7 linked regions of the Homo sapiens genome follow. The protein of the gene in region 1 purifies or fractionates together with the protein of each later gene. This does not show direct contact. Each region holds a gene or a part of one and is shown in the gene's direction. Other genes may lie near its edges. The genes, in order: ANGPT4, NID1, TOR3A, CCDC138, PPT2, NUCB2 and TBKBP1.

Region 1 (3,758 bases):
GAACACATAGTAGATGCAAAGAATAGAAAAAAAAGAAAGAAAAAGAAACGTTGCCGGGCACGGTGGCTCACATCTGTAATCCCAGTGCTTTGGGAGGCCAAGGCAGGCAGACTGCTTGAGCTCAGGTGTTCAAGACCAGCCTGGGCAACATAGTGAGACCCTATGTTTGTATTTTACAAAAAATACAAACATTAGCTGGGCATGGTGGCCCGTGCCTATTGTCCCATTTACTCAGGAGACTGAGGTGGGAGGATTGCTTGAGCCCAAGAGGTCAAGGTTGTAATGAGCCGTGATTGTGCCACTGCACTCCAGCCTGGCAACAGAGCAAGTTGCTGTCTCTAAAGAAAAAAATGTATATGTATTAGCCATTATTATCATTATTGTGACCATTATCACTTCTCTCCAAGACTCAGGTTCAGTGAGATAGGGGAGGCCTGGCATACAGTAAGTGCTTTGTCCCTGGGAGGCAGCAGGCAGGGAAGGCAATCCAGGAAGGGAAACAGCCCAAGCACTCCACCCAGGCTGGGGCTGTCCCTCCAAGAACACCTGGAGGGGAAGCCCAGCCTGGGACAAAGCCACTGGGGAAGTTCTTGCTCGACACAGCCCCAACCTGACTCTGGGCCCTTCTGCCACCACCACCTCTGGGTGGCCTCCAGGCTTTCTGTGGTCGGGTACAGCGGCTCAGCAGGGCGCCAGAGCAGCCTGGTCCTGCAGAACACCAGCTTTAGCACCCTTGACTCAGACAACGACCACTGTCTCTGCAAGTGTGCCCAAGTGATGTCTGGAGGTAGGTGCAGGGTGGGGTGAAGCTCCGCCCACCCACAGGCTCACCCAGATTGACACTCCCATTCCCTCCCCAGGTTCTTGTGCGCCCAGGTGCTGTCAGGAGGATGGGTGCAGGTCTGGGCCTTGCCCACCCATAAGCTCACCTGGCTGTGCCCCTTCGGTGCCTTCCCCCATTGAGTCCTTGAAGTCCCCTCCAGGTCTCACCTCCTCCTAAAGCTGGCACCACCAGTTTTCCTCAGAGACAAGGCTAAAGAAACACTGAGTGCAGGGCCCCGGGGGGGAGGCACCCTATACCCTATCAGTCCCAACCCCAGGCAAGCCGAACCAGGATCAGGAGACCAGAGGGAGGCAGAGGGGCAGCTCCACACCAGCTGTGGCTCAGGCAGTGTTCCTTGGTAGGCACAGAGGTCAGAGAACAGGAAGTGGGGTGAATGGGAGACAGAGACAAAGTAAGAAGAACAGAGACAGGGGGAGAGACCTTCTGAGACACAGAGGACAGATGGAGAAAGAGAGAGACACCAAGGCTGTCAGAGTCATTGAGCAGCAGATGGAGAGCTATACTGGGGCAGAGAAGTACAGAGGGAGATGGGGGAGAAAGACTTAGCCCAAGGAGAGGCCGGGAGACAAACACAGCATGTGAAAGATGGGGGCCCAGAGGAAGGGAGGGCCAGAGACACGAAAGGCAGAGAGGGACAAAGACCATCAGAGAAAGATGAACACAATGGGACACACAGAGACAGACCCACGCACAGAGACCATAAGAGAGAAAGAGATGAACCTGGAGAGTGAGAGACTCAGAGAGAGTGACAGAGACCACTAGAAAGCAGTGAGCAGAGCGATGAGGGGAGGTTGGGGAGCTGGAAAGACAGGTTCAGTGAGGGAGGAAGACAGGGACGCCAAGGGCTCAGGGAGAAGGCCGGGAGGAGCAAGGGGGCTCGAGGAGTGGCCAGAGCCCCTTGCTGCCCTCTAGAGGCCCCGGCTGAGCAGAGGGTCTGTTGTCCACCCCACCCCCACTCCCACCCAGCCCCATCCCCAGCCAGCTGGCTTCCCAGAGGAGGCAACAGCCCCGATTAGTCTTTGTTCTCTTTGGGACACAGGGGCTGCCCTCTTGCCACTGGCTGGGCTCCCACCTCCACCAAGCGCCTGTCCTCCCTCTTCCACCAGGGTGGTGGTTTGACGCCTGTGGCCTGTCAAACCTCAACGGCGTCTACTACCACGCTCCCGACAACAAGTACAAGATGGACGGCATCCGCTGGCACTACTTCAAGGGCCCCAGCTACTCACTGCGTGCCTCTCGCATGATGATACGGCCTTTGGACATCTAACGAGCAGCTGTGCCAGAGGCTGGACCACACAGGAGAAGCTCGGACTTGGCACTCCTGGACAACCTGGACCCAGATGCAAGACACTGTGCCACCGCCTTCCCTGACACCCTGGGCTTCCTGAGCCAGCCCTCCTTGACCCAGAAGTCCAGAAGGGTCATCTGCCCCCCAACTCCCCTCCGTCTGTGACATGGAGGGTGTTCGGGGCCCATCCCTCTGATGTAGTCCTCGCCCCTCTTCTCTCCCTCCCCCTTCAGGGGCTCCCTGCCTGAGGGTCACAGTACCTTGAATGGGCTGAGAACAGACCAAACTTGATTCCCATGACCAATGGTGGGGTTGCAGGCAGGTGGGAATGTATTTGCACATCGGAAGCTGCCCAGATGGCCCAGGTTCTCTCCCTTGGATTGGCAAGAAGGCCATCTCCCATTCTAAGCTCCTGTTCCAAGATTTTCTAGTCTTGAGATGTCCTTGAACTTTCTTTTCAAGTCTGAAGGGGCTGCATCCACCCCTTAGTGGGTGGGTTAATCATTATTTCCCCTTCACACTTCACCACTTCTAGGTTCTAATGACCCTAGATCTCAGGGTCTTTAGACTTCACCACTTCTAGGCTTTACCACTTCACCACTTCTAGGCTCCAATGTTTGGAGCTCAGGGTCTTTAGGAGACCCAAAAGGACATGCTCCTTCACCTCCAGCATGTCCTAGAGGATGTGTCACAGGGAATAACTATGGCTTGTCTCTAAAAGTACCTATGAGCAATGAGAAAAGGAAACAGCAGGTTAAGTCAAAGTGAACAGGCACTCTTCACTGCAGGACTGATCAGAGCCTTTAATATGGCCAAGTGCCTTGTGACTACCCATGAAGGGGCTAGAGTGGGCAGCTTTCTCCAAATTTACTTATTTGAAAATGGGCTCGGTTTGTCCCAGAGCATCTCACAGGACTGTAGATGCTCTTGGACAAAGCTAGTGCTCCCCTGGCATAAGGAGGAGCCCTACGACCCCATCCCCACCCCAGCTATACTCACCCTTTTTGGCTACAAGGGCCACAGTGACAGCCTCAAACAACCTCTAAAAACAACTGGAAATAACCTTTCAGTTAAAACAGATACCATCCCTGAAGAAGGGTCTAGAACTAGGTCCCTGTCTGTGTTATAGGCTCATGTCCTCCAAGGCTCCTTCAAGTCCCAGGAAGCTGATCTCTACCTGGGTGGCTTCCCTTAGGACTCCCTGTAACCTCAACTCCCCCAGGCTCAATTACAGGGACTGTTAGGCAGGACATCTGTCTCCAAGTCCAGATCCTCTCTGCCTCCAAGCCCTAACCCCTAGCCTCCCTCCCTTCCCCATCCAGCAGTGATGCTGCCTCTGTGGTGGTAGGTGGGGAGCTGCAGGGGAGGAGATAAGGCCTCTGCCTGAGTTTGGGAGACCAGGGCCCTCATAGCTTCTTTCAGAGGATGGAGTCAGAAAGGATCCACAGCTACTCTGTCACCTGCCCCCATCACTGTGTCATGCTGTCTGCCCTGTTGTCATCAGCCAACACCCAGGCATAGCCAGGAGCCCACCTGCCCTACCGCCAGGATACACCTCTGTCCTCAGAAGGTTTTCTCCTGGATGAGACTGAGCCAATGGGAATGGGACCCCTTCATCCCCCTGGC
Region 2 (3,019 bases), on another chromosome or scaffold:
AAACTAAAAGGGGGATCACACACAAGAAGGAGCCCACTATCTTAAATGGCTATGGAGTCAGATCAGAGAGAGGGCTATTGAACTGATTTCTGCCTTTTCCAGGCCATAACTACTGCTCAGTGAACAATGGCGGCTGCACCCACCTATGCTTGGCCACCCCAGGGAGCAGGACCTGCCGTTGCCCTGACAACACCTTGGGAGTTGACTGTATCGAACAGAAATGAAGACAAGAGTGCCTTATTTCCTTTCCAAGTATTTCACAGCAACACTCTACTTGAAGCAACTTGGTCCAGATTGAAAAGTGTCCTCTGGCTGAGTGGCCACTAGGCCCAGACCCAGCCCAGCCTGAGCCCCAACAACTTTTCCCTCACTGTTCCCCAAAACATGCACCCTGGACTTCTCTAATAGAAAAGTCTCCACCCCTACACAAGGACAGAACCCTCCACCCCTACCCCCAACCCTCAGACAGACTTATACACCCCTGAGTGAGGATTACATGCCCATCCCAGTGTCCTAGGACCTTTTCCCAATACTAGCCCCCCAGTGGTGAACAGAACCTCCCAAATTTGAGTTGCACCCTTCCCTGTGGCCTTATGAGCTCAGCCTCGCTTTGAGGTACCCACCGTCCTGTCAGCTCCTTGACCTATGAGCCGGGGCCTGACTAGGAAAAGTTGGGAGTTAAGGAGGAAATTAGCATTCCTTAATGTTTTGTTTTGGTGCTCTGAATTTCTTCTTTATTATAGTCCTATAGTTTTACTCCTCAGTTCCTCACCATCATCATCTTGTCTAAGACCCCCATTATAATATTCATGCGCTGCTTTTTCATCAAAACCTACCCTGTCCTAGAGATCTATGGGCATTTGGTGGATGATAATGAGCAGCCCCTCCCAGATAGAATGTCAATATTTGAGCAGTAGGATATTGGCATTTGTTAGTTAAAGGCTTAAATCAAAAGAATGTCCAATGGTAGGAATTTCAAGGTGTAGGTCAGATATTTGAGAATAGGGGATTTTTTTGATGTGCCTTAAATTATACCAAAGATTACTAATTATTCCTCTTTGCCCAAAATACTTGCATCCAAGGTTCTAGTCTCTGTTGCTGTGCTGGTCTTTAGCCCCACTGCTTGCACTGATGTCCCTCCTTTTCACGGAGACCTATCTGAGGTACAGGATGGGGCTGGCACCAGATGATGTCCCACCACAGTCCCTCACCTCCGGCCTCCACATGACAGAACCAATTTACACTCAACCATGACCTCACCCCTCCTTGGTTTCTCCCTCGATCTGTGGCCCTTTTTGGATGTATTCTTATCTAACAACACAATCCGGAAAGACTGAATTGAATATTTATACTAATGGTTCATATCCTTTATTGCTCAATGATCTAATTAAAGGGATCATTGCCACATTTCATGTTTATATTTCTACAATTTGTTTAGAAAACATCTCCTGACCATATCAGTAGCTCGTGTTATCTTTTTATCAACTGCTTCCCAGAGTCCTAAAACAATAGAAATTTTGGATTGAAAAGTTCAGCATAAGGAGTTTGAGTCAGTAAAGGATGGGATAAAGGAGTCGAGATGATTCAATGAAAAGTATCACAAAAAAGAGATTGATCAACAAGAGAAATAAAAAAGCCCAAGAGGAAGTGGTAGGGGAAGGAATTTAAGAACAGCAATAAGTAAAACTCTTAAGTAACTCCAAAAAGAAAATGGTACATTTTGCCAAAGACCACTTATACTTGAGAACATGGAAGAATTTGCCTGATACTCTCTTTGGGGAAAAGAGTCTCTCCTCTTTTCCTCAAACCCCAGTACACTCAGCCTCTCTGCCCCACCTTCTCCTGACTTTGTCCTCACTTGCTTCTGCAGTACATTGGAACCTGAATTGAAAGAAAGTCTTCCTTGAATAATTGGAGTTTGTCTTGAGAGGCAAATATAGCCCCAAGAATCACAAGATTCGAGGACCATGTAGGTCTTTTACGTAGCCCAAATCCATAAATTAGTCTCACTTTTTGTATTTATCGTTTCATATTAAACCCTCTATATCAAATGTTCATCATGATTTTGTATGATTTTTATAACTATTTTATTCATTTTATTAGATTTATTCTAAAATTTTTTAATGGTAAATTCTTAAACTGTGGAAACCACTGAAGGTGCTTATTAACTGTTCTCCCAGATTTGTACAAGTATTGGATGATTCCTTGAGTTTACAGCTGTACAAATAGTGTGGAAAATAAACTTTTTTTAAAAAAGAAAATCTTCCTCTATCTTTTCTGAATGAAGAGATTTAATGTTGGGAGGCTGATTCATGATAGACAGACAGACAGCCACTTAATAATCTGCAAAACCTGTGGAGCCCAGAAACTCTTATCCCAGTATTATGAGAGCTAGTATGTTTCTCAACCACAAAAAACCTTAGGGGTTGTAATTTACCTAAAAATGAGTGCAGTGTCTCACACCTGTAATCCCAACACTTTAGGAGGCCAAGGTGGGTGGATCACTTGAGGCCAGGAGTTTGAGACCAGTTTGGGCAATACAGGGAGACTCCATCTCTGCAAAACATCAAAAAAAAAAATTAGCTGGGCATGGTGGCACACACCTGTAGTCCCAACTACTCAGGAGGCTGAGGTGGGAGGATTGTTTGAATCCGGGAGGCCAAGGCTGCAGTGAGCTATGATCGTGCCACTGCACTCCAACCTGGGCAACAGAGTGAGACCCTATCTCAAAAACTTAAAAAAAAAATAAAAAATAAATTATATTATAGATTTCAAGCCACCCTTTTGGATATTGTTTTCATTGAGAAAATATATTCTACAAGCAGGCAATAGAAAAAGTTTTCTGATTCAGCTCTGGAGATAAGCTATGTTTTAATTCTCTTTTTACCTCCAGAAGGAAGAAAGATGCTTTCCTGGCACTGGCTATGGAGTGAGACCCCTGGTCTGTTCTAAGCTGCCACCAACAGGCAGTGCCACTCATGCTGGCCCCTGGGTGGGATGAGAATGGCCTCTGAGTTGA
Region 3 (3,758 bases), on another chromosome or scaffold:
CTGACAGGAGGAAGTTAGACCTAGCAGAAGGCTTTGCACACTGGAGCTGCTCTCACCAAGTGTTGGCTGAATTGAATGAGAATGAATAAAATCAGGCTTCTCCATAAAACAGGGAGCCCTGAAACCAAGGGATGGGAGCAGCCTCAGGACATGGGGGACAGGGTTCCTCCCTAGACAGGTCTGTGCCAACTGTTCTGGGTATCTGCAGGATCTTTAGGAAGGGTGATTCCACTCTCCCTGAGTCCCATCTTGATTTCCCAAACTCTTCAAAAAGTAGTCCTTGAGGCTGGGCGCAATGGCTCACGCCTGTAATCCCAGCACTTTGGGAGGCCGAGGTGGGCGGATCTCGAGGTCAGGAGTTCAAGACCAGCCTAGCCAACCTGGTGAAACCCGTCTCTACTAAAAATACAAAAATTAGCTGGGTATGGTGGTGGGCACCTGTAATCCCAGCCACTCGGGAGGCTGAGGCAGGAGAATCGCTTGAACCAGGGAGGCGGAGGTTGCAGTGAGCTGAGATTGCGCCACTGCACTCCAGCCTGGTGACAGAGCAAGACTCCATCTCAAAAAAAAAAAAAAAAAGAAAGTAGTCCTTGAATCCCTTCTGCTACAAAGTCTGCCCTCTGGCTTCTTATTCTAAGGCCAAACAGGAGGAGTAACTGATTCCACCCGAGAGAGATTCAGAGTTGCTTGGTTTCTTGGCTGTTGGCTGTTGTGGTGGATGGGCCTGTGTGTGCCTTTTGCTGTGACTACCTCTTTCCTGTCCTTAGGCTTAGAGTGGGACCTGAATGTGCGGCTGCATGGCCAGCATTTGGTCCAGCAGCTGGTCCTAAGAACAGTGAGGGGCTACTTAGAGACGCCCCAGCCAGAAAAGGCCCTTGCTCTGTCGTTCCACGGCTGGTCTGGCACAGGCAAGAACTTCGTGGCACGGATGCTGGTGGAGAACCTGTATCGGGACGGGCTGATGAGTGACTGTGTCAGGATGTTCATCGCCACGTTCCACTTTCCTCACCCCAAATATGTGGACCTGTACAAGGTGAGGCCGACCAGGGCTGGGGTGAGGCCTCTGTGCTGGGAGGGAGACCCTTCTGCCAGCCCTTCCTTGCAAGGAAATGGGCTCTGGAGAAGCCTGGGGAGGTGGGGACAGGTGGCAGAACCTGTGACAGAGCCACTCCGTCCACTCCTCACAGAGGCCCTTAGCATGTGGAAGAGACTGGCGTTCCAAACACCACCCCCTGCTCTGTCCCCAAACAGCCACACTCGAGAGGCTGGACACTGCGCTTAAGCAGGGACGCTGCATGTTGATTTTTGTTGTAGAAGTAGTGAAATGTCACAGACTGCAGTGTAGAACAGAGAAAAGCAAAAACTGTCAGACTCTCCACACGGACACACCCTTGTCAGCTAAGGAGAGGTAGCATTTTATGTGCTGCCTTTGGTGCGGAACCTTTCCCCAGGCTCTTTGTCATTGTAACTACGTTGGACAGAAAGTTGTATATCCTGCCTTTTTAAAATTTAAACAGGCCTATTGGCCGGACATGGTGGCTCACGCCTGTAATCCCAGCACTTTGGGAAGCCTAGGTGGGTGGATCACGAGGTCAGGAGATCGAGACCATCCTGGCTAACACGGTGAAACCCCGTCTCTACTAAAAATACAAAAACTTAGCTGGGCGTGGTGGCGGGCACCTGTAGTCTCAGCTACTCGGGAGGCTGAGGCCGGAGAATGGCGTGAACCCGGGAGGCGGAGCTTGCAGTGAGCCGAGATCGTGCCGCTGCACTCCAGCCTGGGCAACAGAGCAAGACTCCATCTCAAAAAAAAAAAAAAAAAAGAAAACAGGCCTATCCTATCTTACCTGATTTTTTCATGTCTTCCCGTATCAGCTTATTATATACCAGCAAGTGGATGGACAGAAATTTCCTTGGCTGTTCTGCCATTTTGGGTTTCTTCTACTAATTCAGCCATGTAGTATTGAAAACATACCAGAAGAGCCTGACAGAATTGACTGCACCTGTCTTTGGCTTTGTTTTAATATTTGGAATGTGTTCACCTGGGAAGATTATGTCAGCGTCTGAGGACAGAGGCTGCCCGCGTCTCCTGGCAGTTTCCATATGGCTTTGGAGGGCAGGGGCAGGCTGAGCTGGGCCTTTCCGGGCAGAACTGTCTGGCTTAGACTGTGGCAAGACTGCTGCAGCCCCAGCTTCCCTGCTGTGAAAACTGGCATGTGCATAGCCCTGCACCTCACACTTTCCCCCACAAAGGTGCACCCAGTAGACAGGGAGTGTGGGCTCTGGAGTGGGAGCTGGCCCTGAATAATATATTCCCTGCCCATTTCGATGAACATTGCAAAGAACCATCTTTTCACTTGAGGGTTTACTGTCTTGCCTGGGGCAAGGAACCCTCCACAGCTTGCAGGAGCCAAGTTGGATGTTGGTTAGGCCCAGTCAGTCCTTCAGCAGGCTTGCTCCCCTGAGATCTCGGCCCAGCCAGGGTGCCAGTGGGCGCTCTGCACCCGGGAGTTCAGGGCAGGGGACTGTGGCTGCCTCTGGGCACATGAGCCTCTCTTTGCCCATCACCCCTGTATGAAAGCTCAACTCCTATCCACCCCCTGGGAATAGACCCTGAGCTTAAACAGGGAAGTTGCGCCTGGATGTTTTTGTTGTAGAAGTAATGAAAGTTTGCGGGTGTGTGGACATTGTTAGCTCCTGGATGGGATGTAGTCCTGGAGAGGAGAGAGCAGGGCTGGAGCAGGGGCCCCTTCTCAAGGGCAGAAGGGCTTCTCCCCACTCCTTTCTAGGCTGTCTCCTAGTCCCCAAGCTGGCTTCACCTTGTTTAGCTTTCAACCCTCAGGGTGCTTGAGAATCACCTGGGAGCTGGTCAGATGCAAATGTCCTAGGCCCTCCCCAAGAGCTTGGATTTGATAGGTTCTGGCGGGGGGCGGGGGGTGGGGAACCCAGCCCCAGGGGGTCCATTGCACATGCCCAGGGGAAACCACGCCCTCAAGGCCGGAGGTGGAAGGAGTCACCACTTCCCCAGCTGCTCCCTATATCCCGTGCAGGAGCAGCTGATGAGCCAGATCCGGGAGACGCAGCAGCTCTGCCACCAGACCCTGTTCATCTTCGATGAAGCGGAGAAGCTGCACCCAGGGCTGCTGGAGGTCCTTGGGCCACACTTAGAACGCCGGGCCCCTGAGGGCCACAGGGCTGAGTCTCCATGGACTATCTTTCTGTTTCTCAGGTGGGTTCTGGGGAACAATAGTCAGGAGGGCTGGGGGAGGGGAAGATACTAGCTGGCAGTGGAGGCTTCCACACGCCCCCAGGTTCAGAACCTTTCCTCAAGAAAAAACAGCACAAACTCTGGTACAGAAAGCAGCAGCCAGCTGTGGTAGCTCACGCCTGTAATCCCAGCACTTTGGGAGGCCAAGGCGGCCGGGTCCCTTGAGTCCAGGAGTTCAAGACCAGCCTGGGCAACATAGTGAAACCCCATCTCTACAAAAAATATAAAAATTAGCTGGGCGTGGTGACATGTGCCTGTAGTCCCAGCTACTCGGGAGGCTGAGGTGGGAGAATCGCTTGAACCCAGGAGGTGGGGGTTGCAGTGAGCTGAGATCGGGCCACTGCACTCCAATCTGGGTGACAGATTTTTTGAAACAAATTCCCAAGGCAAGCCTGGTTAGAGAACGGCATAGTCTCCCATCAAGTCCAACACGGCCATTTCTTCCTTCAGCCTTGGAAGTCTGTTTCTTCTCCGATTATGAGAAGTCATC
Region 4 (4,445 bases), on another chromosome or scaffold:
TACATGGGGATTTGGAAATTGGGTATCCTAAAGCAAGTAACTGTTCAACCACCAGTCAAAAGAGGGGAGGGATGTTGTGCGAGTAATGAGTGATGGTATACCATCACCATTCCACTCGGCCACAAAGCCAGATACTTGAAATAAACCTACTCCAAATGTATCAGTTCAGTCTTGAACCATGGATTACATATGTTTACACTAAATATTTCAAATTGGCTTATTTGGAAATCTATGTAATATAAACTGATGTAAAGTGTGTTGTAACTTTTCAGCTGAGACAGTTGATGCCTTCGTCATGATTTTAGAATAAATTCTTAAGTTAATGCAAGTGCTTTTTAAGAGACTTTTTACAGATTTGTATGCTTTCCTAAAGCACTAAAGTTACAAATTAAAAAGCTTTAAAAACTTTGACCAAAAATTTGACAAAATGACATGTAAACTGACTTTTCCCGTATTAGTATTCCAAAGATGCTTAAAAGTGGCTTGTGGCATTTATGAGAAAGTCTTTGTGTCACATTTCAGGAAAGGACTTTGATTTCTCTTTGTTATTTAATCACTGATGTGGTCTAAACCCACGATAATATGTATCTTTCCTTTTAAACTGGATTTTATGTTGTCTCATTAAAATCTGCTTAAAGATAGAATAAAATTCATTATTTGTACATCTTAAGTGGTACTTTATGGCAAAAAGTATGGCCTAAGTAATTTTCAGATAATAACTGCTGAAGTACAGATTTTATAAAACTTGGGCATTTGGGAACTTTAATCCAGAGAATTTAGGAGTTGTTAGTCCAGAGATGCAGCTGACAGTCACAATTTAGAAAGTAAAAGATTACACCACTGTAATTTTATGAATGAGAAAAATGAAGTGGTTGTACAGTTCCCCTCAGTCAGTTTTGTTTAACATAGGTTTTCAGGTTGATGTATACTATGTACTATGGTTAGCACTGTTGTAGGTATTGGCAAAAGCTTTTTTCTTTTCAAAAAAAAAAAGTTTTTTTTCCAGGGTGCTTACATTCTAACTATTCTTTTTAATACCCTGTTATACCCCATATGGAACACAGGGAAAGTGAGGTAATCTGCAATGTCTATGCTCAGCTTTCCCTTTTTTTTTTTTTTTTTAACTTTAAGAGATGGGAGTCTTGCTATGTTACCCAAGATAGATGTAACTCTCAGGCTCAAAGCAATGCTCCCGCCTCAGCCTCCTTAGCAGCCGGGACTACACGCGCGCCACCACTCCCGGCTCAGATATACTCTTGGTTTTTCTTTTATATGGCAGTTAGCAAAGGTCACTTCTGATGGAACGACCGGTCTATGTGGTGAGCGCAACGCACACCAAACTTAACAGGTTAAATGGAGCTGGAGCGGAGCGCTGCAGGCAGGTGCGGGGCCTCGGTGCCCCTCAACCCGTGGCACCCAGGCAGCCGGGGCAGGACTATCGCGGGGAGATGCAATACTACTCAGTTACGAGGTGTGTAGTGCTAGCACGAGAAACTTGGAGGACGCGCTGACAAGCCGGGCTGCAGTCTCCGGGTCGCCCCGCCCCGCCCTTTCCCTGCCGCCGTGCGTGCCTCGGGGGGGCGGGGTCTGGCACGTCGTGACGCACTGCGGCCGCGTAGCGCCGCGGGTTTGATGAACGCGGTTCCCGGGGAGACTGGTACGGTTGCTGTGTGCTATGGAGCCGAGGGTCGTCAAGCCACCGGGGCAGGATTTAGTAGTGGAGAGTCTCAAAAGCCGCTACGGACTCGGGGGCAGCTGCCCCGACGAGGTGAAGCCGCCGCCTGAGGTCCGCGGGTGGGCTCCTGCTGCTGGGGGGCGGCCCGCTCCGTGCCCCGCGCAGCCGGCCTGGGGGCGCGCAGCGGCTCTGGTCCCGGCCCCGGCACTCCCGCCGTGGCTGCGGCTTGGGCCTCGTGGAAGCAGGCGGGAGGGGCGGGCGTTGCGCTGCGGGGGTGCGGGGGTGCCGCTTCACCTATGCCTCTGTGTTCCTGGTATACTGGGCATGGTGTGGTGTTGGAGAAAGTGCTATTCAGCTTTTTTTTGCAGTGATGTGAGTGGAGTTGTGAAAACAATTGAATTGCTTTTTAAAAGCGGCTTATTTCGAAATAATTTCGGACTTACTCAAAAGTTGCTGCAGTATTACCAAGAATTCCCTTGTACCCTCACTTGCATTCACAAATTAATATTTTGCCACATTGGCTTTACCATTCGTTCTCTCCCCTTCCCTCCCTACAAACGCATTTTTTCCCTTTGAACTATTTGAGGGTGATTTGCAGGCATCATGCCCCTTTACCTCTGAATAGAAATAACTTGTGCATTTTTCCTAAGCATAAGGACGTTGTCTTTTAATAACCACAGTAATATTTTCAGGAAATTTAGAATTGGTATAATATTTGGTAATCTAGAGTTCATAAGAAATTTCAGCAATTATCTCGATAAAACCTTTTATAGGAAAATTTTTTCCTAGTGCAGATCCGACCCAAGAACGAGCATTGATTGTATTTGATTGTCCTTTTTGTTGCCTTTAATCTGGAACAGGTTCACAGCCTTTGTTTTCTGTAAGGTTGTTTTTTTTTTGAGAAGTGTAAGAATTATTTATTGGATTGTTTCTCCGTTTGGGTTTATCTTATAGATGCTTCTTCGTTAGATTGATTATGCATTTTTGGCAGGAGCATGAGATGAGTGATGTGTGGCCTGCTGTGGGGAGGAACATGACGTTGGTTTGTCACATTATTGATGATATTAGTTTTGATCACTTGGTTAAGATGGTGTCTACAAGATTTCTCCACTCTAACCTTTGTAATTAATACATAATTTGTGGGGAAATATTTTGAGACAGTAAATTGATTTTTAGTATACAAATTAAATCTTTTCTTTTTTTTTTTAGTATGATTTTTCAAATTTTTATCAGTCTAAGTATAAGAGAAGAACTCTAACCTCCCCAGGTAAGCCGGTATTTTGTATATTTGGGGGTTTCAAAAATTTAATTTGAGGCTGGGCGCGGTGGCTCACGCCTGTAATCCCAGCACTTTGGGAGGCCGAGGCAGGCGAATCACCTGAGGTCAGGAGTTCGAGACCACTCAGGCCAACATAGTGAAATCCCGTCTCTACTAAAGATACAAAAAATTAGCCGAGCATGGTGGCGGGCGCCTGTAATCCCAACTGCTGGGAAGGCTGAGGCAGGAGAATCGGTTGAACCCGGGAGGCAGAGGTTGCAGTGAGCCGAGATGGCGCCACTACACTCCAGCCTGGGCAACAAGAGCGAAACTCAGTCTCAAAAAAGAAAAAAATAGGCTGCGCGCGGTGGCTCACGCCTGTAATCCCAGCACTTTGGGAGGCGAGGCGGGCGGATCACGAGGTCAGGAGATGGAGACCATCCTAGCTAACACGGTGAAACCCCGTCTCTACTAAAAAAAATACAAAAAATTAGCCGGGTGTGGTGGCGGGCTCCTGTAGTCCCGGCTACTCAGGAGGCTGAGGCAGGAGAATGGGGTGAACCCGGGAGACGGAGCTTGCAGTGAGCCGAGATTGCGCCACTGCACTCCAGCCTGGGTGACAGAGCGAGACTCCGTCTCAAAGAAAAAAAAAGAAAAAAAAATTTGAGAGAGAAGATTTTAAAAATAGTATTATTTAGACTTATGGCCAGTGCCAGATATTTTGTGATATATTGTTGTGGTAATCTTTCATGGTTTCTTTGTCGTTGACAGGTGATTTGGATATCTACTCTGGAGATAAAGTTGGTTCATCGTTAAAATATTCTGATGAAAGCAAGCATTGTAGAACACCATTGGGCAGCTTATTCAAGCACGTAAATGTGAATTGGTAAAGTACCCTGAAACTTTACTGTTGCTACCCCCTCAGTATCTCAAAAAACTGAGAAAGAGAAAAGGGCAGGTTATATTTTTGCTCTTTCCTGAGGACAAGTATGAGGACAAGTATAAGGCAGTCTGGAGCCTGCTAAATAGTTGAAGCGAGTCACTTATTAATTTTTACTGAGAATCTCTGTAATAAAAGCATAGACCTAGCATTATATTTAGTGGCATAATGGAAAGTTATTTATATAATGTAAAAGATGAAAAAATATATTTTTATGGTTATTCATTCAGGACCCAAATGAAGACTCTGCTCCCTTTCTTTAAAAATTTTTTTTTAGAAAAGGAACTATGGGCCAGGTGCGGTGGCTCACGCCTGTAATCCCAGCACTTTGGGAGGCCGAGGCGGGTGGATCACCTGAGGTCAGGAGTTTGAGACCATCCTGGCCAACATGGTGAAATCCCGTTTCTACTAAAAAATAGAAAAATTAGCCAGGCTTGGTGGTGTGCGTCTGGAATCTCAGCGACTTGAGAGGCAGAGGCAGGAGAATCACTTGAACCCGGGAGGTGGAGGTTGCAGTGAGCTAAGATTGTGCCATTGCACTCCAGCCTGGGTGATGAGCAAAACTGTCCTGA
Region 5 (4,340 bases), on another chromosome or scaffold:
CTCTGTTGGTAATGTGTGCTTGTTCCCCCACTTTCCCTTTGCTTTTGAGGCTGCTTAGAGTCTCTGGGCTGGTCAATGTTCAGATCCATTCCCTAAACCCCCCTACTCCCACCCACCACCTCCCACCAAGACGCATCTCCAGCTCCTGAGTCGACCTGCAGTACAGCGTTATTAGTCTTTTTATTTGCTTATTGCATCTTGGGAGCGCGTGGGTGGGTGAAGGGAGCGAGGATAGGAAGTCTATGGAGATTTACACCAGTTTTTTTTTTTTTTTAAACAAAAACACAGCCAGATAATTATTATTCTTCCCTTACGTCCCCCCAGCCCCCACCTGGGGCAGTCGCTCTCCCGGCTGCGTCCCTTTTCGTCCATGTCCTAGCAGAGACTACAGAGCAGTACAGAGGCTCTCGCTGAAACCAGTCCCAGGCTCCACAGAGTCAGATCACGGCTTCACACCAGTCGTTCTGGTCACTTAGGCGTTCGCGTGAGCGCTCAACCCCTTACCGCCACCTCATCGTCACTCTACACCATTCTGAGCGCAAAAATGTTTTGATTGAGACAAATTTAGACCAAGCAATGACCTTGTAAACAGAGAGAGGGGCTCAGACATGCTGAGAAATCCTTATCTCTAGAGAAACGTCTTTAAATGCTAAGTAAAAGCCCTAGCAAGTAAAAGCCCTGAGGCACTAGGGTGTCGGTTAGGGGTCACAGGCGGAGAGGTGGGGCGCCTGGGGGTTTCGGTAGGGAGCCACCCACAGATAACTCAGACAGCCAGATTCTGGGGGTCGTTCAGGTTGAAAGACTGGTCGAAATTACGCGGGCATGAGTCAGCGCATCCCTACGCGCCCTCCGCCCCTTGAGGGTGGGTCGCTTATAGGGAGGGGAGTAGAGTAGGGCAGGAGAAACTGGGCCAGGCTGCACTTAGCTCAAGGGGCCTCGAGGACTCTCTGCGTCTCTGGAGACAAGGGCACTACACGCACTTCAGAATGAAGAGTTGTAAGTCGCTGACCTGGGGCGGACTGGAGGGTGGGGTGGGGTGGGTGTTGAGGGGCACGCCCGGGCTGGCATCAGCCCTCCAGGCCACCCTGCCACTCACCCAGCACACGGCAAAATGCAGAGGACTACCTTTCCCTGGTCCGCCCCCTGGCCGCCCCTTGGGGAATGCAAACTTCGTGTTCTGCTGCGGAGCCAGACGCCTGTATTGGGAAGTGGGGAGAATCAAGGCGGGGAAATCGGACTTTTGGGTCGCTGGGGGCAACGAAGCCTGGAGAGGCCTTCTTTCCATTCCCAGAATATGTTTGCTGCTTTTTCCTCTCCCCACTGGCCTAAATGGATCGCTCCGCCTGTTTCCTCCCCAGCACCTAGGGCGCAATGGAATATTCCATTGCCCCTCCTGTCCTGGGTCTGTGTTGCGGGGAACGCTCGCGCGGTTGCCAGAGAAAGCCCCGGACGTGACGGATTTGCGCGACCCCAAGCAGCCCGCCCTTCCCCCTCCCATCCGTCATTCCCCTGCGCTCTCTTTCCTCACCCTTCCCCCCGCCACCGTGGGTTCCAGACTTGGGATAAGTAAACAGCGGGTGGAGCGAGGCCTACGGACCCAGGCCAGGTGGGAGTCTGCACTCTTCAAGGGGCCTGGGCTGCTGCTCACGGGTATTAAAGAACTCCGCGTTGTTCATGGCTGAGGCGATGCATTAGGAAGATCCTGGACCTAGAGAACAAGTCCCCCGAACGCTGAGTTGGAGGCGGGACTTCGGGTGCGCGTTGGTGCGTCAACGTGGTGGGGGGGTGTGTTTGTAGGGAGAGGGCTGGAGTAAGTTAAAAGTAGGCTATTTTGTGACACGGACCTGGTGTGGGAGCGAGAGGAGGTGGCTTGATTGCCGGGCGTCTGTTCCGAGGGAGGAGGGTGTTGCCATCTCCCTCACATGCCCTTATCACCCCTTTCTCAGGCGGGAGCATGCTGGGGCTCTGCGGGCAGCGGCTCCCCGCGGCGTGGGTCCTGCTTCTGTTGCCTTTCCTGCCGCTGCTGCTGCTTGCAGCCCCCGCGCCCCACCGCGCGTCCTACAAGCCGGTCATCGTGGTGCATGGGCTCTTCGACAGCTCGTACAGCTTCCGCCACCTGCTGGAATACATCAATGAGGTCTGGCAGGGGACACCTGGGTGCAGGGCGTTAGAGGCGTCTACTGTGGCAGGGGAGGGAGAGCGGGGAACTGAAAGCCACCCCTCTGGGCCTGCCCAGTTCCTCAGGGAGCTGGTGCTGGCGTGGGGGAGAGTTGGGGGACGGGATCCCTGGTTCTAGCAGGGTACAATAGACCTGTGGACGCGGGCCAGGGGGTGGCGTGTGGGAGCTTCTTAGCCTATCCCCGGTGGCTGCATTGCCCCCTTCCCACAGACACACCCCGGGACTGTGGTGACAGTGCTCGATCTCTTCGATGGGAGAGAGAGCTTGCGACCCCTGTGGGAACAGGTGCAAGGGTTCCGAGAGGCTGTGGTCCCCATCATGGCAAAGGCCCCTCAAGGGGTGCATCTCATCTGCTACTCGCAGGGTAGGCGACTCCCCTGCCCCTAACTCCTAAGCCCTATCTGAGGCTTGATCCTTATCTGAGGGACACTTCCTAGCGTCCCTTTTTCTGAACCACATTGCTCCAGGCACAACCCTGGTACCTGAGCCCTTCCTTTCTGACTTCCCTCAGCACCTGGGTCTCATCTCTGTCTTGAATGGGAGGGAGGCTCCCTACACTGCTGCCCTTTTGCTTCCTGTTACCCATGGTTCTTGGACATAAGGGCTAATGGGGCAGGTAAAAACATCCTAGAACTAGAGGCAGGAGGCCCAGCATCTAATTCGGGCTCAGTCACTTATATGATGTGTGACCTTTTGGCACAGGGTGTGCCTGCCTTCTGTAAGCCTCAGTCTCCTTTGTGTACAGTGTGTGTCTGTGTGTGTCTCTGTGTGTGTGTGTGTGTGTGTGTGTGTGTGTGTGGTGGGGGTGGGGGGTGCTGCTGGCTTTGCTGTCCTTAAGTGCCTGCCCAATGTGGTGTTCTGCTTACAGGGGGCCTTGTGTGCCGGGCTCTGCTTTCTGTCATGGATGATCACAACGTGGATTCTTTCATCTCCCTCTCCTCTCCACAGATGGGACAGTATGGAGGTGAGTGGGCACTAGACTCCATAGAATGCCCTGAGTTTTGGGGGAACAGAGGTTTATGGTCACTTAGCATTGCCATTCGCTTGCCAGACACGGACTACTTGAAGTGGCTGTTCCCCACCTCCATGCGGTCTAACCTCTATCGGATCTGCTATAGCCCCTGGGGCCAGGAATTCTCCATCTGCAACTACTGGCATGGTGAGTGGGGATGCTGAACTGGGGCTTCCATGGATCAGGTCAGTTGCTTCCACCTCTGCTACAACCAATAGCAGTGATGACAATAAAGATAACTTACATTTATTGAGTTATTTGAACAGGCTCTGTTCAGAATTTTTTTTTTTTTTGAGACGGAGTCTTGTTCTGTTGCCCAGGCTGGAGTGCAGTGCACCATCTTGGCTCACTGCAACCTCCGCCTCCCAGGTTCAAGTGATCCTCCTGCCTCAGTCCCCCTAGTAGCTGGGATTACAGGCAGGCGCCATCATGCCCGGCTAAGTTTTGTATTTTAAGTAGAGATGGAGTTTCGCCATGTTGGCCAGGCTGGTCTCGAACTCCTGACCTCAGGTGATCCACTCGCCTCGGCCTCCCAAAGTGCTGGGATTACAGGTGTGAACCATTGCACCTGGCCCAGAATGTTTTAAGTGTGTCACCTTATTGCCTTAGAAGGTTTAGTCTGATGTGGGAGTCAGCAAACCTTGTCTATAAAGGGCCAGAGAGTAAATATTTTTGACTTTGTAGGACATATAGTCTGTTTCACAACTCCTCAATTCTGCTGTTGTAGTGTGAAAGCAGCCATGTACCATATGTGAATGAATGTGCCTGTGTTCCAGTAAAACTTCATTTACAAAAACAAGTAGCAGGCTGGATTTGGTCCTTTGGTCACAGTTTGCCAACCTCTAGACCAGACCATGGGGCCAGAATACTTGGGTTTGAATCTTGACCCTATTGGGTGCCTTTGGGCAAGTTACTTAACCATTCTGTTACTCAGTTTTCCTTATCTGTAAAATATTATAGCATGTACTTCACCAGGTGGTTGTAAGGATTAAATAAATAAATGAATGCAATGTACTTTGAATAGTACCTGGCTCATATAGTAGATACTAGATAGAAGTACTTGCTATTGCCAGGTGTGGTGGCTCACACCTGTAATCCCAATATCTTGGCAGGGGGAGGTGGGCGCATCACCTGAGGTCGGGTTCGAGA
Region 6 (3,758 bases), on another chromosome or scaffold:
AAAGATCAACTAAAAGAGGTATGGGAAGAGACTGATGGATTGGATCCTAATGACTTTGACCCCAAGACATTTTTCAAATTACATGGTAACGATTTGATACAAATATTAATATTTATATCTGCTGCTTGAAAAAGTATTTGCTTTCCTCTTAATTGATTTCTGCCAAGGTCTGCTATTGAGTTCTAGTGAGAGTAAATGGTTAGAGTTTTTCTAGGGTAATATGATAGTCTTTATTGCTCACCTGCAGTATAAAATGTTTTAGATTAGTAGCTCTGTCTTTATACTGGCTTTTACTGTTGAGTCATATGAATTACTGCAAAGTTCTCTGTTAAGTGAAAACTAAACTGTGACTAGCTAGGTTATATCTAATAGGCTTTATACTATAATATTACATTTTACTTCTACTCTCATAGAATATTGCTTTACTTTATATTTTTGGAAAAAAATGGTCAAGATACGCTTTCCTTACAAATGATTATGAATTACAAATAAATACAGCATATTTATCAGTTCAGCTGATCTAAAGCTTCATGACAAAGAATAAATGCTTTTCTGCAGTCTATTGATGCTTCACATCAGTACTACTTTTGTAAACCCTTTATAAATCATTGTATTTTAATTATTTTCTAAGTTATTAAAATCTATTTTTGCATTTGTAACTTTTAAACTTTAGATGTCAATAGTGATGGATTCCTGGATGAACAAGAATTAGAAGCCCTATTTACTAAAGAGGTAAAGGAGTTTATTAAGTATTCAGTGTTCTTGTTCTCTCTCTTTTTTTCCTGTTACTTTCTTTCCTTTCATGTTCATTTAAAATTTTTCTTTTTAGTTGGAGAAAGTATATGACCCTAAAAATGAAGAGGATGATATGGTAGAAATGGAAGAAGAAAGGCTTAGAATGAGGGAACATGTAATGAATGAGGTATGTTTTAAAAGTTTAAGATAATATGTTATTTCTATGTATTATTTAATTCTTGCAATAAATCTTTAAGATGGAAAATATACAGAATTTGTATTTAAATGGAGTTTGCGTTTTTGTTTTTGTTTTTTTTTTGAGACAGGGTCTTACTCTGTTGCCCAGGCTGGAGGCAGTGGTGCAATCATGGCTCCCTGCAGCCTCAACCTCCTGGGCTCAAGCAATCCTTTGGTCTCAGCCTCCTGAGACTGAGGAGGGACCACAAGCTGGAGCCACCATGCCTACCTAATATTTTTTTTTTTTTTTTGAGACGGAGTCTCACTCTGTCATCCAAGTTGGAGTGCAGTGGCGCGACCTCGGCTCACTGCAACCTCCGCCTCCCAGATTCAAGCAATTCTCTGCCTCAGCCTCCTGAGTAGCAGGGATTATAGGCACCCACCACCACACCTAGCTAATTTTTTTATTTTTAGTAGAGACAGGGTTTCAGCATGTTGGCCAGGCTGGTCTTGAACTCCTGACCTCAGGTGATCCATCCGCCTTGGCCTCCCAAAGTGCTGGGATTATAGATGGGATTACAGGCATGAGCCACTGGCCTTTTTTGTTTGTTTTTGAGACATAGTCTCACTCTGTCACCCAGGCTGGAGTGCAGTGGTGCGATCTTGGCTCGCTGCAACCTCTGCCTCCCGGGTTCAAGTGATTCTCTTGCCTCAGCCTCCTGAGTAGCTGGGATTACAGGCATGCACCACCACGCCTGGCTGATTTTTTTATTTTTAGTAGAGATGGGGTTTCACCATGTTTGCCAGGCTGGTCTTAAACTCCTGACCTCAAGTGATCCACCCACTTCGGCCTCCCAAAGTGCTGGCTGGGATTACAGGCATGAGCCGCCGCACCAGGCCGATTTTTATTTTTTTTAAGAGACAGCATGTCTTTGCTACGTTGCCCAGGCTGTCAGCTAACTTTTTAATTTTTGGAGACACAAGGTCTTGCTATGTTGCCCAGGCTGAAGTTTGCATTTTTGATCCAGATTATTATACTAGATGCCTTTAGTATGAATAAAATAATTTGTAACTACTTTAAAATATTCTAAAAGATAAAGATGCTACTGCATATCAGGTATAAAACTTTTTTTTTTGGGCTGGGCATGATAGCTCATGCCTATAATCCCAGCACTTTGGGAGGCCGTGGCAGGTGGATCTCTTGAGGTCAGAAGTTCGAGACCAGCCTGGCAAACATGGTGAAACCCTGTGTCTACTAAAAATACAAAGATTAGCTGGGTGTGGTAGTGCATACCTACAATCCCAGCTACTCGGGAGGCTGAGGCATGAGAATCGCTTGAACCCAGGCGGCAGAGTTTGCAGTGAGCCAAGATTACACCACTGTACTCCAGCCTGGGTGACACAGCAAGACTCCATCTCAAAACCAAACCAAAGCAAACCCTTTTTTCAGTACTGAAAAACAAAAACAACAACCTCTGGTTACTGCCTCATTTCTCTGTTTCTCTTCAAGGAGTTGTCTATTCTTCCTCTTCCTGTTAATTCTTCACTTTTCCTTTTCGCCTTAATCTGTGCTGATACAGTTGATGCCTCCCTCTTTCTCGAAATGCTTTCTTCACTTGGCTTTTAGGAAACCACCCCTCCTCAGTTTCCTCATACCTCACTCTCTCTTCTTTGCTGGCTCTTCCTCCTCTTTCCAAGTTCTACATGTTGCATTGCCCTGGGCCCATCCCTTGGCCGTGTTCTCCTTTCTCGCTTCGTTCTCTCCTTAAGTGATAGTGTGGAGCCCCATGTCTCTATATATGCTCTATATCTGCATGTATGCTGGTGAGTTCAACATTTTTATCTTCAGCTGTCTCCTTTCTCTGAGTTCTAGGGTTGTATCTGCTTGACAGTTCTCCTTGTGTTTAACTCACATCTTCTTCAAACCCAGATCTGTTCCTTCCTCAGCCTTTTTCATTTCAACAAATGAATCATAATTCATCTAGTTGCTCAGGCTAAGTCATCCTTAACTTCTTTCCTCACATCCTGCATTTCCTCTATAAGTTCTGTCTGATCTATCTTTCAAACAGATCCAGAATTTGACCACTTCCCCCCACTTCCACTACTATTTAATACCAATCAAGTCCAAGCAAGTCTCCTAACTGGCATCTCTGCTTCTATTCCTTACCCCACTGCAGACACTTCTTCATAAGTAGGCAGAGTAAGCTCTTAAAAGCATAAATCAGGTCATGTGCTCTCTTGCACAGAAATACTTCAGTGGCTTGCAATTTCCCTTGTAATATGATCCCAAATCCCTCCTATTTCCAAAAGATTCGTGACTTCATCCTTGCCTTGCTCTCTGTGACTCTCTCTCCTCTGGCCTTCTGATGTTTACCTCTCATCAAGCTTGTTCCCATTTTAGGGCATTTGGACTTAATATTTCTTTTTTCTGGAATACCCCTTTTCTAGATCATCACAAGGTTTTACTTCCACCGAGTCTGTGCTCAAATGTCCATGGTCCATCCAATGACTACGCTCATTTAAATATTTGCCTTTCTCTGCAGTTCTTGCTCTGCCTCTCCTCCCTTTAAGCCAAAAACTCTGATATAGGCATCATATGCAGGGTAACTGAATCCCACTATTTTGCTTCAGTAACTTTCATCTGAATTTTTGAGTGGTAAATGCTAAATTGGGGTCTCTGTTGACTGCTGACATCCCAACTATCAAGTGAATTTCTTTGACCATTATAGATTACACCTTTGTAACGAAATTTGCCACAGCCTGTAACAGCTGTACAAGAGGATTTGGAGAGGTTGTCAGCTTTAGTTTTGATTTTGGTAATTGTGTTTTTTTAAGAAAAAATGTTG
Region 7 (4,434 bases), on another chromosome or scaffold:
GAGAATGAGTCTAGAGCTCTGGCTGGCTCTCCTGGTAGAAGCTCACCTCTCAGTCCAATTTTCTCCCAGCAGTGAGGAAAGATGGCAGCTGCTGCTTTTCAAAGCTCAGAGAGAGCAAGAAACCTTTTCCTTCCATCCTCCCCCTCGGAGATTCCCACCCCCATCCCACCTCAGGAGCCAAAAAGGTAGGCTCAGGTTCCCAGCAGTCTTCGCAGCTAAGGCTGAATCTGCCAAAAGCCCCCGCCCAGCTTATCCCCTGCTTCCGGGCTTTGCCTCCCTGTCCACAGAGGATGCTCTTCAGCCAGAGTGCTCCAGGGTTCCCCTGATCATTCTCTACCTGCAGCTAGGCTGACCATGCCTCTGTCCACATTATTTAATCCACCAGGCAATACTCAAAATGACATCGTTAACACTTCCTGAGCATTCGCAGGCTGCTGTATTTAGTTCTGATCCCCATTCTTCCTCCATGAGAGTGCTTAGGTGGGGCATGATCTCCAGCTTAGAAAGGTTAAGGTAACTTGCCCAAGGTCACACAGCAGGAAAGTAGCAAAAAACTTGTTTCTCTTGCCCAGCAGTTTGGCAGGTGCTCAAATAATCTTTGTGCACAGGGTGACATCTGTTGTTTCTTCATTTCCCTGACCTGTGGGTACTTGAGGGTGGCCGGGGAGTGGTGTGTGGGGAGGGAGATGGCTGTCCTTCTTCATGAATGAATCTTTGACCTCCTTAGTTTACTCTCACTTCCAAAGAAGTTACAGCTTTAATCTCTCTGTACCCTATGTTCAATGTATTTATCGCAGCAATGCCCCTTTTACCAAGAGCAACGAAGAGCAGGTCTAATGATTTCCTTCTCAAAAGCGCAAAGACCAAAAAAAAAAAAAAAAAGCCAGATAAATAGCCCCACTTCCTCCCCAAATATACAGCCCATAACTAAACAACCAAAACAACCAAAGCATCAGCCGGGCCCCTGCACTGACCGCAGACGCCCCCAACACACGCCACCACGCCACACTGCGCCGGGAGGCGTCGGGGAGGGGGCGCCAGCGCGGGCCGCTGGCGCCGCAGGGAGCCGGTGGGCTCCGGGCGCGCTGCCAGGAAGGGCCGCACCGTAGGGGCCGCCGCCTCTCGCCACGTGGTGGTGGCAGCGGCGGGGTCCGGGGCGCCTTCCCAGCTGGAGAAACCCGGAGCAGCCGGGGAGGAGGAGGCGGAGGAGGCGGCGGCGGCGGAGGAGGAGCGGGGCGGACGGGAGGGAGGGGGTTGGGGGGAGGGGTGGGGGGTGGGGAGAGACCCGGCGGCGGCGACAGGGCGAGGAGCAGAGCGCGGTACCAGGGGGGTGGGGGCACTGGTGCCCGTTTGGGGAGGGAGCAGGCGGAGGGGGTAAGCTGCGATTACAAGCAGGAACCGGCAGCAGCTGTGAGTCCCCGGCTGGGGCTAGGGCTGGGGGAGGGGAGCGGCGCCCGGGCTGGGCCCCAGGGGTCGCGGGGTGGGCAGGAGGAGGCGGCAGGAGGGCGGCTGGCAGCCGCACGGGATGGCTGGGAGGGAAGGGGTCCGGTGTCGGCCGCCCTCATCCCCTCGCGTCCCCCTCCGCCGCCGTTCCTCAGGCCGCGCCACTCCCGGAGCCCCTTCCCCGGCCCCGAGAGGGTGTCCGGGGGCCCAGGGCTCGGCCGGTTGTGGGGGAGGGGGCTGCGTGGTCTCGGCCCCCGAGAGGGGAGGGGCGACAATTTCTGTCGGCCGAGCGAAAGGGGTTTAAAGGGCGGCTCTTAAAGGGGCCGCAGGAGGGGCCCGGGCCGACAGAGGCACTCACCCCTTCCCCAGCCGCCTTCCATTGCGCTCACCCGGGCGCTGGGCCCAGAGAGGAATGCGGAGGAAGGAGGCATTTGTGGTGCGGCCTCGGGGACAGAGCCCCGCCAGCGGGGTGGGCGCAGAGGGGCGGGCGGGGGTCTGGGGGGGTGTGGTAAGCGCTGGCGCGCGGAGCTGGGGGGAGGGGATGGCGTGGGAAGGAGAGGGTTAAAGGTGGGGCCGGCCCTACAAACGCGCGCACACACTCCTTACTCAGACCCAGTCACTCGCGTTTCCCTGGCACTTAGATGGGCCTGTGGGTGGCGGAGGGGGGGGGGTGGATTGAATTGGAGCCTGCGCCGGAGCCCTTTGCACCCCAAGCTCCTGCAGCCCGACCTGGGGGCCCCGCTGTCTGAACTCACAGCTCCCTGCCGAGCCCCCTCTCCGGGGTGCACATAACGCTCCAGCGCGCGCACACACCTCGGACAGTCCCCTCGCGTCTCACGTGACACGCGGCCCGGACGTGCCACCCTGCCCACGCGCTCACGCACGCGTGCACACACCAGCCTCCTGGTCGCTGCCCCACTCCGTCCCGACGCCCCTGCGACCCCGAAGGCACTCATTGACTGACACACCTACACTCATTCACAGACGCACACTCCCCCCATACGCCAACCCCAGACACACATTCATAACCAGGCCCGAGAGAAGTACACACGCACCCCCTCACTGCCTACTCCTGCTTTCGGGAGCCTGAGTCATTCCTGCCCCCTCGTAGGGTTCCCCATTTCCCGGTGCGCGGGCACCCTGAGACAGCCTTGGGAATTCGTTCGCGTCCCCTTCCACCTGGGTCCCCTTCCCCAGTTTGCGCCCCGTAACACTCAGCCAAGGACTTCCTGTGGGTCCCAGGTCAGGGGCCAAGGGGTCCTGGACCGCTGCCACAGCCCCGGTGCGCCCGGGGGAGGCGCTTCCTTTTCCTGAACTCTGGGATCCTGCGGGAGGAAGTGGGGAAGTTGGGCGGGGGTGCAGCCGAGGGCGTGCCGACTGTGGAGGGGCCGACCCTCGCGCAGCTCTGGGCCTTCCTTGGGGAGGAGCTGGGGTGCCAGAGGCCCAGGCTGAGGAGCTTGGCGGCGAGGTATTTGGGGAAGTAAGGCCTGGGGTGGAGAAGCGCGGAGGAATGGGCCGGGCCCGGCTGGGAAGGCAGCCCTCTCCCATCCACAGGTCTCCCTGGGTTCTGGCAGGAGCCTGCCCCTGCTGCCGGCCTGGCTTACTTGTCCCTACTTGTCAACACCCTGGCAGCGGGGTCTTCACCTGGTTCCAGCCCCTTTTCCCCAAGGCGGCAGAGAGGATGGGGCTGAGGAGTCTGGGAAGGGGCCATGGGAGTCCCTGCTGAGCTCGGGGCAGGAAGTTTCTGGGTTGCATCTTAGCCGGCCCCAGGGAGTGCAGAGCCAGGGAGAGGGGTACCAGGGACAAACCCTAGACAGACGGCCCTGTCCACGGTTGCTCCTGCTCTCCTAGGAGGCCCCGTGTGGGCCGCGGCCCGGCCCTCACCATGGAGTCCATGTTCGAGGACGACATCAGCATCCTGACGCAGGAGGCCCTGGGGCCTAGTGAGGTGTGGCTGGACAGTCCCGGAGACCCCTCGCTTGGGGGCGACATGTGCTCCGCCTCCCACTTTGCCCTCATCACTGCTTACGGAGACATCAAGGAACGGCTGGGGGGCCTGGAGAGGGAGAACGCCACCCTCCGACGCCGCCTCAAAGTCTACGAGATCAAGGTCAGAACTTGGAGAGGAGGGCGCCTGATAGAGTGTATGGGATGGGGAGGGGGACTGGGAATCTGGTAGATACCAGGGATCCAAAAGAGGGGTCACTGTGCAGACTCTTGGGAACTTGAGGGTCTCCCATGAGAGACGTGGCTGTTCCGGATGCGAACTGTCTCCTGTTGGCTTCAGAAGGGCTGGATCTGGGATCTAAAACAGATCCGGTGGGTGGGAGATGGCTACAGACCCATGGGAATTGGGATCCCACTAGCCAAGGAGAAGGAGGGTCAAAGGTCTGAGGCAGGTTGTGGGTTGGGGGCACAGCCAGGCTGAGGCCTGGGCTGGGCACCCGGGAATCCACTCTCCTGAAGCTCCACCCCACCTGCAGTACCCACTGATCAGTGACTTTGGAGAGGAGCATGGCTTTTCTCTGTATGAAATCAAGGATGGCTCCCTGCTGGAGGTGGAGAAGGTCAGCCTGCAGCAACGGCTCAACCAGTTCCAGCATGAGGTGAGCCTACCAGGCTGGGCGCACCCCCTGAGCATCTTGCTCCAGTCTGTTTCTGATACCCTTCCCTCCACACCCCCCAGCATCTGGCCTCTGCCCTTTGATTAGAGATGGCCAGGTCCTCCCTAAGCCCAGCTGCAGCTCCTCCTGCCCCTCCATAGGGTGCTGGGAGTGGGGGTGGGGAGGTGCAGGGAGCTCTCCAACTCCAAGTCCAGTGTGGGACTGACCCTGTGGTGGGGCCCTCTGGGCCTCATCCAGTTACAGAAGAACAAGGAGCAGGAAGAACAGCTTGGAGAGATGATCCAGGCCTACGAGAAACTCTGCGTGGAGAAGAGTGACTTGGAGACAGAGCTGAGGGAGATGGTGAGGCCTGGGGAGCCGGAGGTGC

The links.
Region 2: the proteins of ANGPT4 (region 1) and NID1 purify together in Homo sapiens (affinity purification with mass spectrometry; one large-scale study listed by BioGRID and IntAct). This does not show direct contact.
Region 3: the proteins of ANGPT4 (region 1) and TOR3A purify together in Homo sapiens (affinity purification with mass spectrometry; one large-scale study listed by BioGRID and IntAct). This does not show direct contact.
Region 4: the proteins of ANGPT4 (region 1) and CCDC138 purify together in Homo sapiens (affinity purification with mass spectrometry; one large-scale study listed by BioGRID and IntAct). This does not show direct contact.
Region 5: the proteins of ANGPT4 (region 1) and PPT2 purify together in Homo sapiens (affinity purification with mass spectrometry; one large-scale study listed by BioGRID and IntAct). This does not show direct contact.
Region 6: the proteins of ANGPT4 (region 1) and NUCB2 purify together in Homo sapiens (affinity purification with mass spectrometry; one large-scale study listed by BioGRID and IntAct). This does not show direct contact.
Region 7: the proteins of ANGPT4 (region 1) and TBKBP1 purify together in Homo sapiens (affinity purification with mass spectrometry; one large-scale study listed by BioGRID and IntAct). This does not show direct contact.

Annotation. Positions count from the first base shown.
Region 1 is NC_000020.11:871,313-875,070, reverse strand, and holds part of ANGPT4 (angiopoietin-4 isoform 1 precursor), read left to right. Parts: intron 1-656; coding exon 657-787; intron 788-929; exon of another isoform or gene 930-1,950; coding exon 1,951-2,111; 3' UTR 2,112-3,758. UniProt on the Homo sapiens protein: Binds to TEK/TIE2, modulating ANGPT1 signaling. Can induce tyrosine phosphorylation of TEK/TIE2. Promotes endothelial cell survival, migration and angiogenesis.
Region 2 is NC_000001.11:235,975,072-235,978,090, reverse strand, and holds the end of NID1 (nidogen-1 precursor), read left to right. Parts: intron 1-102; coding exon 103-224; 3' UTR 225-2,261; downstream 2,262-3,019. UniProt on the Homo sapiens protein: Sulfated glycoprotein widely distributed in basement membranes and tightly associated with laminin. Also binds to collagen IV and perlecan. It probably has a role in cell-extracellular matrix interactions.
Region 3 is NC_000001.11:179,084,861-179,088,618, forward strand, and holds part of TOR3A (torsin-3A precursor), read left to right. Parts: intron 1-767; coding exon 768-1,033; intron 1,034-3,050; coding exon 3,051-3,229; intron 3,230-3,758.
Region 4 is NC_000002.12:108,785,148-108,789,592, forward strand, and holds the start of CCDC138 (coiled-coil domain-containing protein 138), read left to right. Parts: upstream 1-1,623; 5' UTR 1,624-1,632; coding exon of another isoform or gene 1,633-1,675; coding exon 1,676-1,768; coding exon of another isoform or gene 1,769-1,786; intron 1,787-2,884; coding exon 2,885-2,942; intron 2,943-3,704; coding exon 3,705-3,819; intron 3,820-4,445.
Region 5 is NC_000006.12:32,152,641-32,156,980, forward strand, and holds the start of PPT2 (lysosomal thioesterase PPT2 isoform a precursor), read left to right. Parts: upstream 1-1,500; 5' UTR 1,501-1,764; intron 1,765-1,946; coding exon of another isoform or gene 1,947-1,954; coding exon 1,955-2,137; intron 2,138-2,389; coding exon 2,390-2,543; intron 2,544-3,047; coding exon 3,048-3,143; intron 3,144-3,230; coding exon 3,231-3,338; intron 3,339-4,340. UniProt on the Homo sapiens protein: Catalyzes the cleavage of thioester bonds from S-palmitoyl-CoA or S-palmitoyl-N-acetylcysteamine (unbranched structures) but does not have activity against palmitoylcysteine or palmitoylated proteins, branched structures or bulky head groups.
Region 6 is NC_000011.10:17,311,199-17,314,956, forward strand, and holds part of NUCB2 (nucleobindin-2 isoform 1 preproprotein), read left to right. Parts: coding exon 1-85; intron 86-673; coding exon 674-732; intron 733-829; coding exon 830-922; intron 923-3,758. UniProt on the Homo sapiens protein: Calcium-binding protein which may have a role in calcium homeostasis. Acts as a non-receptor guanine nucleotide exchange factor which binds to and activates guanine nucleotide-binding protein (G-protein) alpha subunit GNAI3.
Region 7 is NC_000017.11:47,692,785-47,697,218, forward strand, and holds the start of TBKBP1 (TANK-binding kinase 1-binding protein 1), read left to right. Parts: upstream 1-1,376; 5' UTR 1,377-1,410; exon of another isoform or gene 1,411-1,879; intron 1,880-1,965; exon of another isoform or gene 1,966-3,294; 5' UTR 3,295-3,328; coding exon 3,329-3,553; intron 3,554-3,926; coding exon 3,927-4,049; intron 4,050-4,304; coding exon 4,305-4,409; intron 4,410-4,434.